Regions from separate parts of the Homo sapiens genome. Here region 1 is linked to region 2. The links come from fine-mapping of genetic effects on gene expression. A gene starts in region 2. The other region holds a variant in brackets. All regions are shown on one strand. Distances are from middle to middle. Region 1 overlaps FAM3C (FAM3 metabolism regulating signaling molecule C). Region 2 holds the start of FAM3C (FAM3 metabolism regulating signaling molecule C).

What was found. PIP is the estimated chance that this variant, and not a neighbour inherited with it, causes the effect.
Region 1: its variant is fine-mapped to the expression of FAM3C in sun-exposed skin (GTEx, PIP above 0.99). The same link has a PIP of 0.9 or more in fibroblasts, lung, prefrontal cortex and whole blood.

The regions. Positions count from the first base shown.
Region 1 is chr7:121,342,774-121,350,999 of GRCh38, reverse strand. FAM3C (FAM3 metabolism regulating signaling molecule C) reads left to right here. Exons shown (of 10, transcript NM_014888.3): 10 at 450-2,122. The coding sequence ends at 539. Among named protein-coding and RNA genes, the nearest start is that of WNT16, 18 kb to the right of the region's middle. The variant T/C (reference allele first, on the strand shown) is at 4,694.
Region 2 is chr7:121,393,028-121,401,456 of GRCh38, reverse strand. FAM3C (FAM3 metabolism regulating signaling molecule C) reads left to right here and starts at 5,149. Exons shown (of 10, transcript NM_014888.3): 1 at 5,149-5,295. It also overlaps the pseudogene CYCSP19. RefSeq lists silencers at 4,785-4,844, 4,885-5,714 and enhancers at 4,942-5,526, 5,527-6,112.

The DNA of each region.
Region 1 (8,226 bases), 50 kb after region 2:
TATTTGAAATAACTATCGTACTTTTAAATTTCAAAACTTGAAAATTCTGCATGGGAATATTTTTTCCTACAGGACAATGCATTGGAATAGGATTACCTATCTTAAGCCTTTTCGGAAGCTTTAGTTATTAAGGATTTTAATTGAGCTTTGGATTTTAGAATCAGTGAAGTTTGGAAATATTTTAGAACTTAGTAGAATGTAAATGTTAGTTTTTGAGTAGCAAATAATCCTTTAAAAGCACGTGCAATGTATTCTTTCAGCTGTTATTTGAAGGTCTGCCATGTATGTGATACAGCCTGAGGGTCACTCATTTAATATCTTGACCAGTAATTTAAATGAACTTATTGTTGACATGAGTATTACTGAAATGAGAAGTGTGTAAAATGTTACGGCAAATCAGCAGTTTACAACGGTTTTTTAAACTGTATATTATTACTGTGTTCCAATAGCACATAAAGAACAATAAGGATACAAACAAATATGAAGGATGGCCTGAAGTTGTAGAAATGGAAGGATGCATCCCCCAGAAGCAAGACTAATGGAAATGTGGAGAGAATTGAAGAAAGCGCACTTTCACTCTTAATGGGAGAGCTATAAATGGCAGAGCTATGTGTAAATATTTTAAGAGCATGCAGCCATCTTGGTGTGTGCATGAGTATTGTCTCTTTTGATATCAGGATTATTTATTGCTAACGTAAATAGATAGCATTGTAAATAATCATCACAATGATCAAATCACTGAACCATGTCTCCGCACATTTCCCTAAAAGTACAATGTTTAGACTGCTATGGTAATACATATTTTAAATTCTAAAAGCATACACAATGTGTAACTGAATGGTTTGTGAAAAATATATTGATATATATACTAGTTGCTATGAAAATATCATGGAATAATAGGGATTTTAGGGTGGATACTTTATTTTCTTTTATGTTTCTATATGTTGCGTTGTGATGACATTATCTTTTAAATTAAAAAGAGATTTGGCTAGTTGTGTGTGTAATGTTACTTTACAGTCCGACTCTCCTGATGTACCTCTTTTCATGATCTTTTTCTTTCCTTCCCAAGAAACTGAGGAATGTTTAATATGAAAACATACATCGGATATGTGAAAAGCACAACAAAATTCTTAATGTACACAGTAAAAAAGTAAATATATAAATGTAGATGGCATTTAGGACCACAGCTTGCTGGATTTGTGTTAGCTATGGGAATAACTTGATTTTGTATAAGCTATTTAGAGTGAGGCTGGAGGTGGCAGCTTCACAGAACTGGAGAACCAGGCCAAGTCCCCTCCCCAACCTAATTAGGTCATTCAGGACAGCTAAGTCAGTATATTTAGAGCAATACTAGCATACGTTTTTCTTAATTGTTATCAGCATTGACCAAGTGGTTTGGAAGGAGGCATGCTTTAATATCACAATAATTTTGATTTGTAAACCAAGAAATTAATCCTGTGTTTATCTAACTTCATAATAGCAATTATTGCCCGAAGCTATAGTGGCATATTTACAAAAGTTCTTATTACTGGGCGGACTGATAACATTTAAAAAATAATTGTGTTTGACCCCAAATGACTTTATACCCAATTCTACATAAAAATATAGAAGATCTATCTTTTTTTGTTACCTTCAGATGTTCACTAAATAACTCAGTTTTTAAGCAGAAGTTTTCAGGGCATTAAATATATGTTGTGTATGAAGTATCTCAAACTGGAACATAAATTTAGTGATCAAACTGCCATTCACAGTGTAAGGCAGCACTTAAATTTCGAACCTAAAGTTTAGATGCATTGTATAAAAAAACCTAAAAGCAGTATCTGTTATTTAGCTGTAAACCAAGTTGGAAGCTATTCGGATAATTTCTTAAATATTGATGAACTTTGGAGTACTGTTTCTTCCTTCAAACTGAATGTAATTAATTCATGAATAAATGCACCTTATATGTTTAAACAATCTTTGTATACTTTTGGGATTTTTGGTGCTTATATGCTAAATCACATTCAGCATGTGTATTTTGACATTTAAAATACTTCCCTCAATTCTGTAAATTAAAAGAATAGTTATTTTACAGTTCCAGGGATTGTGAAATAAATGTTGCAGTTTTTTAAAATAATGAAAATAAATACTCTTGGTTTTGCTTTGTGAATTTTTTTTTTTTTTTGTATTATCTGGCAAAGTAATATACCTACAGAACTTCACAAAAACTCACACAAGGTTTTTCAAGCATTTATTATACTGCCTAACTTGGAAAAAAAATTGTTGCTGTGGTTAAAAATAGTAATATCCTAGATGTGTCTTAACATGTAAGAAGCTAAGTATCTAGATGGCGGAAAAAGCCCTTTTATTAAGACTGTAAAAGGATAGCTTTTCCAGATATATAAAATGTTAAAAGAAGACAAAGATTGGTTATGTTAACTGGTGTGGTTTCCTTTTGTCTCAGTTCAATCTTGTATAGATTGTGCCAACTTAACTTTGAAAGCAATAACTTTATACTACATTTTCAGATACCTCTTTAAAATCGGTTTTAGACATGAAACAGTGCTCATTTAATATTAAGAATGTTCTTTATTAAAATCAAATTAACATTGACATAGTATTTGAAATGGTGCTTATGGGCTTATCGATGCATATTTTTTATTTGTAATCCGATGCTGTCCCAGAATAAGTGTATTGTAATGTGAATGTTAAAATTGAACAAGAGAAAGCAGGAAAATAAGTGGTATTTGGGAAATTAAAGGAAGATTGAACCAGAGTCTTTATATTCCTGAATTTAATTGGATTAATGGGAAATTTATCATTGTTCTTTCTATATTGGACTTGTTTTTAAGTGAATCAGCTATGTTATAATTTTATGACAGATCAAAGCTGAGTTCATTTAGCCTGTTGCACTTTATACTTTAAAAATTTACATAAATTTTAAATAACTTGACCAAAAAAGTTATAATTTCATTCAGTTTGGTCAACAAACTCTCCCTTAATTGAATGCAAAATGTGCCATGTTCAGTTAGTAGAGCAATTAAAAGTGGAAATTCATTTAGAATACTTTGTTTCAAAGGAATATGAGAGAGATAAATTACTTGTGTTGATTAGGGAGATTTGTCACTTAAACCTCTTCAATTATTTCAACCTCTTGTACAGCAATAAATCCATGTAAATTTAGAGCTATAGAATAAAATAACAGATTGCACCTTTGCATTCCTCAAAAGGATTTTCTGTCTCTTTTCAGAATGATTTTTCTACCACATACTTGATTTTTGATTATCACATGCTGTAACTAGTTAATTTCTATTTCCATCCAAACTCGCTCAATTTAAGCCTTTTTTCTCTGCTTGCTCCTTATTGTGATTTTTTTTTTTTTTTTTTGAGTTTCCAGGCAAATCAAAGGCTAGATGGAGTGAAAAGTAAGCAGGCTTCGCGAGGGAATGTCATTCATTTGTTGCTAGACAGCATGAAGAGAGCATCAAAGGATGTTTCAGGCAGCATGGGAAAAGCCCTCCAGGGAATCTAAGAGACTCTTCTGCCATCAGAACCTTCCTCCAGGCCAGTGAGGGGGCAAACACCTTGAGGGAAGCTATACTGGGGAAACACTTCAAATAGTTAGATGTCTCTTCTATGAGCGGTCAGAAAGGAAAAGGGACTGGGAAGTTCTCAGGTTAAAGACAGAAGAGATGTTTCTCTTGGGCTTGTCCCATGGCAATTTGTAAGCAAAGTTAGCATGGGGAAGACAATCTTCTCAGTACAACTAGTTCACAGGTACAACTTGTTGCCATCACTAACTTCACTGTTCAGCTCTGCATCAGTTATGACAACCACTGGGGTGCATTTAATATTGAAAGAACAAGCTGAGGCTAAATTGATAAAAGATACTCCCTTTGGTCAGGGAAAATTGACTTATAACCTGCAAGCTCGTAATGTTCCGTATAGTCAGCCCATATTTCCTTCACTTGATAGCCAAAGAGAAAAGGGTCTGAAAAACCTTTAAAGAGGAGAGAATTCTGTAGTGGGGAGACAGTGTGGCATAGTGGTTAAGAGTGCAGACTTGCCTGAAAATTCATCTCTGTTCCACTGTGAACTACTTGAGGACTTTGAGGAAGTCAATGTCCACCTGTAAAACAGGGATAATACCAGCATGTTTGTGGTGCCTATCAAAGTGCCTGGCACAAAGTACTCATTCAGTGCAACTGCTAGTATTGCTGTTATCAACCGTGTGTCTTACAGGCATTTTAGCCCAAGAGAAGCTGCAACAAGTCAGCCTCTCTAGCTTTCCAATCCCATCATACCCAGCCAGAAGGGAGCCATTAGATGACTTGAGCAGTAAGATCATGGGAGAGGTTTCATTCATTTCTTCACCTGAGGTTCTCCTTGACCTCCAAACCTCTTTCATATTCTGCCTACCTTTTCACTTATTACACATTGACACCAACTCCCCTTCATAGGTAGAATTCAGGCTTTTATGTATCTCCAAGTAGCTACCATTTTAAGTGGTTAATTTATGTATTTTGGTGTATCTTCAGGTAGCTAGCATTTTAAGTGGTTCTACTTGATTGCTGGTCTGGCCTTTAGGGGAAAGTATGTGACTTAAGCCAAAGAGGCTGGGAGCCCTTGCTGACCTCTTCCTGTGGCAGGAGGTGGTTGATGAGCCTCACTGGAGAGTGCAGGCCTTGATCCCTGCTCCTAATAACCTCACCAC[T/C]CCAATTCCTGCTGCGGGGCAGGGTGGCATACTGATCATGGTGGGGAAGATGCTGGGGCTCAGCTGGCCCTCTCTGACACAGAACAAACTCAACAGTGAGGCCAGTGACTTCCCCACCAAATTGTAGCCTCCTGTATCACCAGTGGAATAAGATGGCCGATTTGGACATCTACCTGTTGAAAAGAATTGCTCTGTTTTCCATAAGTATATCCCTCAAAGCAGAGGAGACTAATGGTCACCCTTGGGAATCTTGTCTTTTAGCGAAAAGTCCAGTGTGAGCCTGTGAAGTTCTCTGATTGTAAAACTTCACATGAATTTTGCATTTTTTTATTATTTACAGATGTTGGTATTAACATGGAAATCTCTTAAATTATTTTAAATTTCAACTCCAAAAGCTACTTAGCTTGTGTATGCTCTGTTTTTTGGAAGGCTGGTTACAGAAGTATTATGTGCTCTATTTGGCAAGAACAGAAAGGAATCCCAAGGAGTATGCATTGTGAGTCCAACCTCTGAGAAGAGGAGAGATTTAAAAGCAAATGATGGTTGGGCTATGGTTAGAAATATGTTGGGTTAGTGGAGAAGGCAGTATTCCCTGAGAGTTGTGGTTTTCAGTGGGTAGAAGTGGGAGAGTCAATTGGTGAAGATTTCCTTAGGTGTAAGGAATGAGCAAGAACTGGGCCTTATGTCCTGCCTCCTTCTTACCTGGGGAGTGCAGCCTGCCCCAAATGGCTTCCTGTTCTCCCTTAGGGAAAGGACTTAAGGTTTAAGGTAAGTGAGCTCATTCCTAGACCTCTATGGAAATCTGAAACGTTTGACCAAAAATGATATTGACAGCTAATTCTTGTGGAACTGTTAAGACCTTACAAAAGGGTGTTAAAATTATATTATGGAAATAGTCTGGATTAGGTTCCCTGTGGTTTTAAAGCACTGGATGTGTTGGATATGGGCACAGTTACAGGAATTGTGGCAAGTGAAATTTTGAAATCATTCTTGTATTTTAAAGTATAGTTTCTCAAAAAATGATGAATTGGGCATTTGGGGAAAGCAAAACAACTTTAAGCCGGTGAAGGAAATAATTTCTCACACTGAGAATTGAAATTTATCTTTCAGTTTGCAAAGTTCCTGTACCCATTAAGTAGGGGACATGTTAGAGAGGATTTATCCCATTCACTTCTTCAGCTTTCCCATTTTGCTATTGTGTCCTGTGTTATTTCTTGCCTTGCATAGAGCCTTGTTTGCCAGGGAATTTGAGATAAAACAATGACAGTGGATAGGACTAAGAGAAAGTAAGGATTATGTACTGGCAATACATAGGTAGTTATTGATTTCCATTTTGTGTATCTACACCTTTCGTTGGTTTCCAGAGAATTCGAGGTGTATTTAAATGTACTGGTATATTTGGTGATATTTCTCTCACCAAAGAGTGAGTAGGGGCACCAAGGATCTGCCCTTTCTTCTTGGCTAAACAGGGCCAAGTAAATGTGTGGGCCATGATCATGGGTGTCAGGTGGTTACTAAAATGTGGAAGGAAAGGCTTGGCCTCTGCAGTAGAGCTACCCTGATGGTTCTGAATGGCCATCTGATAGGGACAAAGGCAGCCCTCAGCCACCGCCCTTTCTGCCTTTCCAATTCACATGAATCAGATGCTTTTACTTACTCTGCAAATTATAAAGTCACACATGAAACTTTAGTTTGTGTTGACTTGATTCTCCTTTATTACTTTACAACCACATGGGAGAGGCTGCTTTTGCTAGTATGATTTTGTTTCAAAAAGTTTTAATCTGGTGCAAACCACCTCTAGTGGTTTTCCTTTGGATATGAGTGTAAACCATTACAAATAGTAAATTTTAATCCATCTGTTAAAAATAACACCTTATGTAACATTTGGCTGTAAGCACAACAATAAAAAGGATGTAAGTATTTATTTTATGTCACACTAAATTAGTTTGATCTTTACCCCTAGTTATTTTCTTTTGGAATGGTTATTAGATTCTTGCACAATCCAACTGTAAGCCACATTGCAATCTAAAATAGAAGTCAGCGTAAGTCACTTTGGGCTTAGTAATCAAGAGGCAGTGTATTTTAATTTTATTTCATAGTAAATTCTAAGATCTCAGCTCTCCCATCACTTCGCTCCCTACTTTTCAACCAAGTTTATATAACCAAACCATGAAGAACATCCTGTAACTTTCATTACATTCACAAATCCCCTAAATTCTTTAAATGGCATATGTTTGTAAACACAGTCTGACAATTCTGATACTGTGAGAAGCACAATAACAATGTGGTAGTTAAGGGCACAGACATTGAAGCCAGTTCCTTCTGTGTGACCTTGGGCTGGGAACTTACTGTGTGTCTCAGTTTCCTCAGCTGTAAAACGAAAACTACAATAATGTACCTACTTTACGAGGTTGTTGTGAAGATTGAATTTTTATATGTATCTCTCTATATATTTTTTACTTAGACTAATACGGGTATATACTAAGTGCTATGGAGGTATTTGCTAATATTATTTATTCTTTCAAAGTAAATTAGTCCTTTCCTTGTGTATCACTGTGTCCCTTGTCATGCTGTGCCACGTGTCATCATCTTGCCCCCAAGAAATGTCATGATTTATCACATCTGGTCTATAGTAAAATTTAAATTAATTTCAAAAAGGAGACATCTTAGCCAACTTTCTTTAAGAAAGGCTTGTCTTGAGGAGTATTTGAGGTTTCTGAAGATAGGATTCAAATTTTTCTTCCCTCAAATCACCTAAGGTAATCAGTGTTCCAGATCACTTCCTGCCTCTAAATAGTGAGTCGAATTTCTCAATCTTTGATGACCTTTGGGAGGTGATGCAAAAAGGATGAGCAACTCACTAAATTGCCTAGAAATAAGTATTTTGATGAGACGCTTTTCTGTTTCTACTACGTATTTAAACTTAGTACAAATAAACTTAGTACAAATATTTAAACTAAGTACAAATATCATATTAGTACTAACAGTCCTGGAGAAAATTAAAATGTGTTTTAAAATACTTACTGTGCATATCACATAGTTTTAAAGCTGCCAAAACATAAGGTCACAGCATCTAATGTGTAAAATTAAAATTTTGTTGTTATTTTTAATATAATTATCATAGTCTCTTAAAATAGAAAACAAAATGACTATCATCCGAATTGTGAATAAAGAAATAATGCAGTTGTTTATACTAAAAAGAATTAACATGTTGTTAATGTTGTGTAAAGTACCATTATCAGGAAAATGCCTTAATTATTCAACTTCCTAATCCAGATGTTACAGATAATATCATTTAATATGTTTTTCTTGACTTTGTTTCAGGATGAATCATTGCCTCTTACCATTGCCTTTATTAGGCAGTTCCAAATTTACAAAGAATTTGAACTCCTAAATTGAAAAATAATCCACTGGAGCACCTCCCTTCGCCCTTTAACATTATGCAAGGTATTTAAACAAATCAAAGCACTTTGAACCCACATTCATAATCCACAGTGCTTAGGGCTTGCTTTGTCTGTTGTGAGCTCCATGTA
Region 2 (8,429 bases):
AAGGAAAGGGAAGTTATTTTGCAGTCATGATTCCAATACATTTTTTAGATATGGGTTACCATATACAGTATATCATTTAACATGATTCATAAGCAAGACAAAAATGCTAAATTTTCCGACACTGAAAGACCTATTAAAACATCAAATCCAAACTAGAATCCCCTATGCAGTGAAATCAAAAGTCAAATTTATTTGAATATTTATTTTTTATTCAATTCATTTAAAAATTCAAATTTTTATGGTATCTAGAATTTTCTTGTATGTTACTAGAAAAGTAATAGATTAAAAACTTAGAGTCTTTTTTGTGCAAAGATACATTTGCTGTAATGCCATTCTACTGTATCCTCCATGTTTCATAGTAAATTAAACCACATTTTATAGGCTGTGTTGCTAATGTATCAAATACAGTGCCATGAAATCTGTGCGCACTCCAGCTTTTTGAACTGTACTATTTTGCCCTTACAGGCAAGGATGAAGTTTAAGGGTTTTAAATTCACATTTTTATAAAAACTCTGAATAATAATTTTCAAATGACACTTAGATGTGGTATTTTAACCTGTATAGGTATAAAATTTGACACGTTTACTTTCAGTTTTATTATTTTACCTCTCTTTTTCTCTCTCTTCTGCTATATTCTTTAGAAGCTAGGCAAGTTTCTGGCCATCTTGCCACAGGTTTGAGTTTATAATCCAATATAAACATGCTTGAATATTTTAAAGTAATCCTACCCCCAGAGTTGGTCAACTCTTTTCCCCCTACAAATGTTTTCTTCCCTGATTCAGTTATTTATTGCTGTGTAACAAACTACCACAATACTTAGTAAATTTTTTTAAGTATGTTATTTCTCAAGTTTCTGTGGGTTTGTTGGTCTAAGCTGGGCAGTTATGCTCCATGTGGTACTGTCTGGAGTTACTCATGTGATATACTCAGGTAGGAGCTTAGCTGGAGCTAGAACATGCAACACGACTTTACTCATATAGCTGGTGCCTTGGGGAAGTGGTTGGGATGGTGTGGATGGAGAGAGAGAGCTAGGCCTCTCTCTGCATGTAGTTTCTCATTATTCAGTAGTTGTCTGAGTTTCCTATATGGTGACTAGATCCTGAAGCTAGTGAAAATGGAAGCTGCAAGGTCTCTTAGGGTCTAAGCCCATAAGTCACATAAGATCTCCTCCATGCATTCTATGGGTCAGAATAAGTCCCGGGGCCAGCCTAGGTTCAAGAGAAGAGGACATAGATTGACCTCTTGATGGTAAAAAACAAAGTGGCATGAACTTACAGGAATGGGGGAATTGTTGGTAGCCATATTTGCCTATAATTTACTACTCCATATACAGAAAAATGATACCAAGTGGACTCTTCTTCTTGAGGGTGGGTGCAATTAAAATTCTGAGGCTTTTTGGAAATTTTGTATTTAACAATATTATCTAATTCTTATATATACATTTTTTATATATTCTTATATAGTTACAGTAATATAAAGCAGGTTATAGTTTTATATAAAATATGGCACCTATTGAGAGAATGAACATTCCTTTCTTTTAATCATGATTTGTGGTTTTGTTTTTAAGCCTTATGATCACATATAATTTTAAAATTTGTGTATATCTCCTCTACTTTAATCATTTTAAGTTGGCAAAAGCACCATTCCCAATCACAAATACACAGCAGTTCTACGATTTTCTGTTTCTGAATGGCTTTTTTTTTTTTTTTTTTGAGACAGAGTCTCACTCTGTGGCCCAGGCTGGAGTGCAGTGGTGCGATCTCAGCTCACTGCAAGCTCTGCCTCCCGGGTTCACGTCATTCTCCTGCCTCAGCCTCCCCAGTAGCTGGGACTACAGGTGCCCGCCACTACGCCCGGCTAATTTTTTGTATTTTTAGTAGAGACGAGTTTCACCGTGTTAGCCAGGATGGTCTCAATCTCCTGACCTCATGATCTACCACGCCCAGCCTCTGAATGGCTGTTTAAAGACAATCCTAAATTATAACTTAGTTTGACTTAGATTGTAAATAATTCAAGAGTGAAGTTTAACTTGCTACTATTTTAAAAGCATATTATCTTACAGATCATCTATAAAATGTGAGAAGTGTTAAATAATCTTTATTTGATATTACACATACACCACACTAAAATGCCTTTCAATAAGTAAAAGGAACTATTTTAAATACAGGGAATTCTAATTAGATTGACATAGTTAAGGCCAAAAATATAAAGTAGACATTGCTACCTTATCTTCAACCCTTGCCTTTAAGAGGCAAATGAACACAAAACACAGGTGAATCTTGCTTGGTTCTGAGATAGTGAAGGAATTTCTCCAGTATTTAAATATATTCACATAACCAGTTATATAAATCCAAATATAAAACCAATCTCCAATATGTTTTAAGATGGCATTCACCATCTTTGTGAAAAGCTGAACATTACTAACAAAGTCTAATCAAATCATGTCTTTAGAAAGGGTAAACAGTGATAGCATTTACTGAATTGGATTACTATTAAAATTCAAAAAAACTGAACATATTCATTTAACTGCAAGCCAGTCTTAGTTTTACATCAGGACTGCCCAACAAAATATTCTGTCAGTTATTCATGATCTGAATTCTGGTGTGTGAGGTCTATTAAATTATGGTACACATAAAAAAGTCATAAGACATTTCTGTTTTGTAATAAATAAGGCAGTGGCCAATTATTATTCATTAGTAGCTTTTTTGAGATAAGCTATCAAGTCTGCTCTTTCTGCCTTCTTCTTAATGCTGGCAAAGATCACTTTGTTCCAGAGATGTGCTTCTTGGGATTCTCCAAATACTCCATCAGTGTATCCTCTCCCCAGGTGATGCCTTTGTTCTTAATGGCATCTGTGTAAAATAATCCAACGGCTTGACCTGTCTTCCATCCGAAGAGACCATGGAGATTAGGCCCAGTCCTGTGCTTGCCTGCCTTTTCCACAGTGTGGCACTGGGCACACTTCTGAATACAAATCTTCTTGCCTTTCTCAACATCATCCATATTTAATCCTCTCTTTTGTTGCTTGTGCTATGAAGGATGACACTCAGAAGCTGGATGTCACACTCTCTGTATATTCTTTTCGAGTCAACAAAAAAGTTGGGCTTTGAAGTTGAGCACGTGAGTTTGAATCTTAGCTCTGTCTGGTCATAGCAGAAGGACCTTGAGCAAGTTTCACTTTTCTCCGCTGTATTTATAGGATTATTGTGAGAATTAAATAAGTCTATATATATAAAGTGCTTAGAAAAGTGCCTGGTGCACAATAAGCACACAATAAATATCAGCTTTAGAAATATACATTATCAGTAGCTATTATTATATAATATAAATTATCGGTAGTTATTGTAATAGCCAACACCTTTGGCTTATACCTCCTGGAGCTGTAAAGCTCTGTGGTTTTATTAAGCTTAATCATTAATCCTGAATACTTCTCCTGGCTCCCCTACCTCCTGCCAAGTAAAAGTAGGAAGTTATCCTTACTCGTTTATAGGTGTAAGAACTGGCTGATTAACAGGAGTCCTAAAGAAGTGATTTACCAATGTTAAAAAAATTGAAACCCATATTAAGAAATATAATTTCTACTGTATCCAGGACATAGACACACAGACACTCACCCACACATGATGCTGTACAAATGTTTCATGAAGAATACTTATCCTGAATTTATGCTTTGAACTGTTTTTTTTTTCTATTTTTCAGTGAATCAACAGCAACAAAATGTTGGTTGTGACCCATTGTTATTAATTTCATTACCTACCAAAGGGTTCTAAGCTATATCTTATGGTCAGTGGAGAATAGGCTACTAACACATTAAACTTTATGCACAGGAATTGTTTCAGGTGTGGTGCTATAAGAATATGTCACATGTAATTTCCAATCTGGTTGGCTCGGTTACAGAGCAGATTGCTCTTTCAGAAATACACCGTGACCTCCCTACTCAAGAGGCTTCATAAACTCTTTCAGTGAGACATAGCAGTCTAGGAGAGGCATGTGTACAGTAAGTGTTATGATTTTTTGGTACTATAATAAGCAAAGTGCCTTTTTGTTTATTTGGAGCTACATGAAGCTAGGCCGGAATTCCAGCTTCATAACTTACTATCTTGTATTTTTGAGCAAGATATTTAAACTCAGTTTTGGAGTCTTAGTTTTTTGATTTAAGTAATACACAAATAGCATAATATTGGCACATGGAAGACAATGAGAATTCATTTCATGCTTTCTCCCCTGATCACGGATCACAAACTCCAGAATTCATAGTTACTATTAGTTTGTGTGTTTTATATTTTTGGAGGAAAGCTAAAATTTGGTAGATTATTAATTCTATATTAACACACTATAGTCAAACCCTATTTTTAAATGCAATTTAATTTCTGCAACCACTGATGATCCCAATATTCTGTCAAATACTAGGTAACAGTTATTCATTATTTTAGAATATGGATCTGAATTATGAAATAATTTTGCATTCTAAGGTCTTATGTAGTAAGATTTGGATTAACTTCCCAATTATCAACACAATTGTAGGAAATCTCCTGAGAAAAAATATTTCTAACGATTGTGTATCTTATAATTTAAAAAATAAACGTGACTTGGAAAATGCAAGGACTACTGTTCTTCTTGGGTGGTGCATTAAAGGTGATCAGAATTCTAATGACGCTGGACAGTAGGATTTTCAGAATCAGTTTCCTAGGGTTCAAGAAGTCAAACGGCAAATAACCCAAGGTCCTTGGTTGATCTGACCATCTCAGCTATCTCAAGATATATAAGATGACCTAACTGGCGCATCTCTAGGATGGGTGGGTCATTTAAAATGTTCTGCCCTTGAGGCTGGGATTTTGTGCGTGTAAACGGTGGGGAGACGGCGGTGACACATTTTTCTCCCTCCCGTAGTGCCACCCGGCGCAGGGCCGCTGCGGCGGCGGCAGCTCCCACGTGGCAAGTTCAGATTGTGCAGCGCCTGGCCGGGGGCGGTGGGCGGGACCGCAGACCCCTCCCTCCGCTCTCCGGCCCTTCCCTCTGGCCGGCCCGGGCGCCCGCTTGGTCCTCCACCGCCAGGGGGCGGGCGCGGCTTCCCGGCGGCGGGGGCCCATTGGTCGCGGCCGGGAAGCGTGGGAGGAGGCCCAGCGGCGAGCTGGCTTTCTCCTGGCCACTTGCCGGGGTGAGGGGCAGCCGGAGGAGTCCGAGAGGAAGCGGAGGCGCGAGCTGGAGGCGGCGGCTCCCGTCGGCCTCCGGCAGGACTGAGCGCTGGGAGGCCGGAAGGCGGGCGCGCGCGGCGGAGAGGCGGGCGGGAGGCCGGTGAGACGGCTGGGAGGCGGACGGAGCCGGGGCTCAGGTTCGGGGAGGGATGGAGGAGGCCGGGGAAGCCAGACGCCCACCTACGACTTCAGCCTCCGCGCACTGCGGTCACCGGCCGGGGGCGGGCCCCGGGCCCGGCCGCGTTGTCACGGCGTGTCCGGACGTTGGAGAGGGCGCAGGCGGGACTGGGGTCCCGGAGAGCCGCTGGCCGGGGTTCCCGGCCGCCGCCCCGGCGTGGGCATCCCCGGGCTCCGCGGAGACGGGGCGGCGTCTGCACCTGGCGCTGGCACTCGGCGCCCCGGCCTGGGGCGGGCACCTGGGTCGCATCTTCCCCAGGTTGGCTGTGGCTCGCGCCCCTGCAGCGTGTAGGCTGAGAGCTCCGAGAGGTGGGGACGGAGTTGGGTGTTGCATTCCAACTCCATAGGGGGCCGTTTTGACTCACTTGTAAAGTTTTAGTGTCGCCTATACTAGAGGTACTTTTGGTTTTTTACAAGCTATCCAGCCCTTTGATGTTTGGTGTCTCTTCTTTTTCTTCCTATTTGTTTGCTACTGCTCTCACAGCTCGGGACCACGGATGATGATTAGTGGCCCTAGATCTGAATATGTGAGTGACGGATTGGCAATTTGAGATTGAGAGCTCCAGCTGTTTTACTTGTGGGAGGAGCGGTTTCCATCATCCTCTACCTTTTTTTTTTTTAAGAAAAAATATTATTGCCTGTAATATAGAACTGCTATCTAATTGATAGGACTTTTCCTTTGTTTCTTTTTGGCCAACATGGTGAAACCTCGTCTCTACTAAAAAATAAAAAAATTAGCCAGGTGTATGTATCCATATATATATATGTATGTATGTATCCATATATATGTATGTATCCATATATATGTATGTATCCATATATATGTATGTATCCATATATATGTATGTATGTATCCATATATATGTATGTATCCGTATATATGTATGTATCCATGTATCCATATATATGTATGTATCCATATATATATGGATACAATGACATAAATAATATTAGATTGCTTACTGTGTACTAGGCACTGCCAAATGGTTTCGTGTGCTCATTTATTCTCACAACAGCTCAGTGAATAAGTCCCTTTATCTTTTCTAGTTTTACAGATGGAAATATGAACTCCCGAGAGTAAAGGTCAATGCTGATAGCAGAGGCCCCGACCCCTTGGACTTGTGGCCAATTTGCAGTTACGTTTTCTTAAGTCTTGGGAACCGTTACTATTAGTCATACAGTATCTTACAGAGTACCAGCAGATCTCTATTGAATTTAGAAAATAAAAGTTAATCACTTACTGAAAGCCATTTAACAAGAAATTGGCAGAATCAGCAAATCAGCATCCGGTTTTGGTCACTTCATCGACCTGTACCTCTTTCTAGAGGCTACTAGTAGTCTCTTGTGTTTCTTGGCTGTTTACCAATAAAGTCACAAGGTTTTCAGTTTTATACAGGTATTAGAAGCTTTGTTTCACAGATTCTTGTAATGTTTTCTCAACTCAATAAAGACTAGCATTTCTTCATAGGAAGAAATAAGAAGAGTTGGAGCCAATAAAAGGAGTTCAGTCCAGCAGTTCTCAACCTGAGGACCTCTCTGAATTACCAATGGGAACTTTGTAAGAGGGACACAGGACAGGTTCCTCAAAATCCTCATTGTAAGGGGCTTCTGTTTCAAAAGGGAGTAAAAATAAGACACTACTGGCTTAAAGTGACTTTAAAAATAAACTTAATGGATGTTTTATTACAATTACAGATTTTTAATGTGGATTGCTGCCTTAAGCATTGTCAACTAATCTTTCATAATTTATGAAGATACATTAAAAAGGAAAAGGAAATTGGAAAAGACAGCCAAAAGGCTAAGAGGCTATGGAATGGCAAAAAGTAATGTTCCCTGAGGGGGTATCAGAAGACTCATATATTTTCCACCATATATTTTAGGTTTTGAACGATTCATTTTTCAAAAATTTTTATACTCTTAAAAATACTGGAGTGCCTACCATGTACCAGTAATTGTAGATATCATGGATACTATGAATAAGACAGCCTGGGCACTCACAAAGCTACTTTATTTTCTCTAAAGCAGGGAATCTTTTTTATTTTTATTTTTATGCCCATTTCTTAAAGCTGAAAGGTGCAAGACCCAAATAGCAAAAGATTTTTATGTTAGCGCTGAGCTAGATAGATTTTTGTGCGACCTTGGTATAATAGCAAAAGTTTGTCTTGAATTTAGTCCAGAAGCGTCTCTGTTCTTGGGATCAGATGATCAGGATTTGAAGCATTGATTCTGTATTTAGTTATTTCAAGAGTGGCATTGACTAAATTACTTAATATCATGCAGTCCTTTTTAATCTGATTGAGTAGACTGAACCAGGTAATTTCCCAAAATCTTTGAACTTTTAAAAGGTTTTGTACTTTCTTTTAATGCAATTCTTTGAGACACAATCGGCTGACTTCCTCTCAGAGGAGGAAATTAAGTGTTGTAATACCCCTAAGTCTTTCCAGTGTACCCATTAATATTCTTTTTCTTCTTCATTGGCCTGCTCCATTTGATTGAAGCTATTCTTATATTTCCCTTATTTTTAATCTAATTTTGAAAATCCGCTATTCATGATTTTTCTAACTTCAGTGAGTTTTTTCTTCCAATTTTCTTTTTTAAATTAAATTCCTGTAACAGAATTTTTCATTTTATTTTTAAATTATTTACAAAGACAGGGTACCCCACTGTTCTGCAGACTGGAGTGCAGTGGTGTGATCATAACTCACTGTAGCCTTGAACTCCACCTTAGCCTGTGGAGTAGCTAGGTTTACAGGCATGTGCCACCACACACGACTAATTTTATAATTTTTTTTCTTAAAAGACGGGATCTTACTATTTTGCACAGGCTGGCCAAATCTGCCCTCAGGTGATCCTTCGACCTCAGCCTCCCAAAGCTCTGGGATTACAGACATGAGCCCCTATGCCTAGCCAGATTTTCCATTTTAAAGTGTGGCATTTAGCACGTTCATGATGTTATGAACCGTCACGTTTCTAAAACATTTTCATCACCCCAAAAGGAAACCCCATATTCATTAAGCAGTTGTTCATTCCCTTCTCCCTGCCAATCCTCGGCAACCA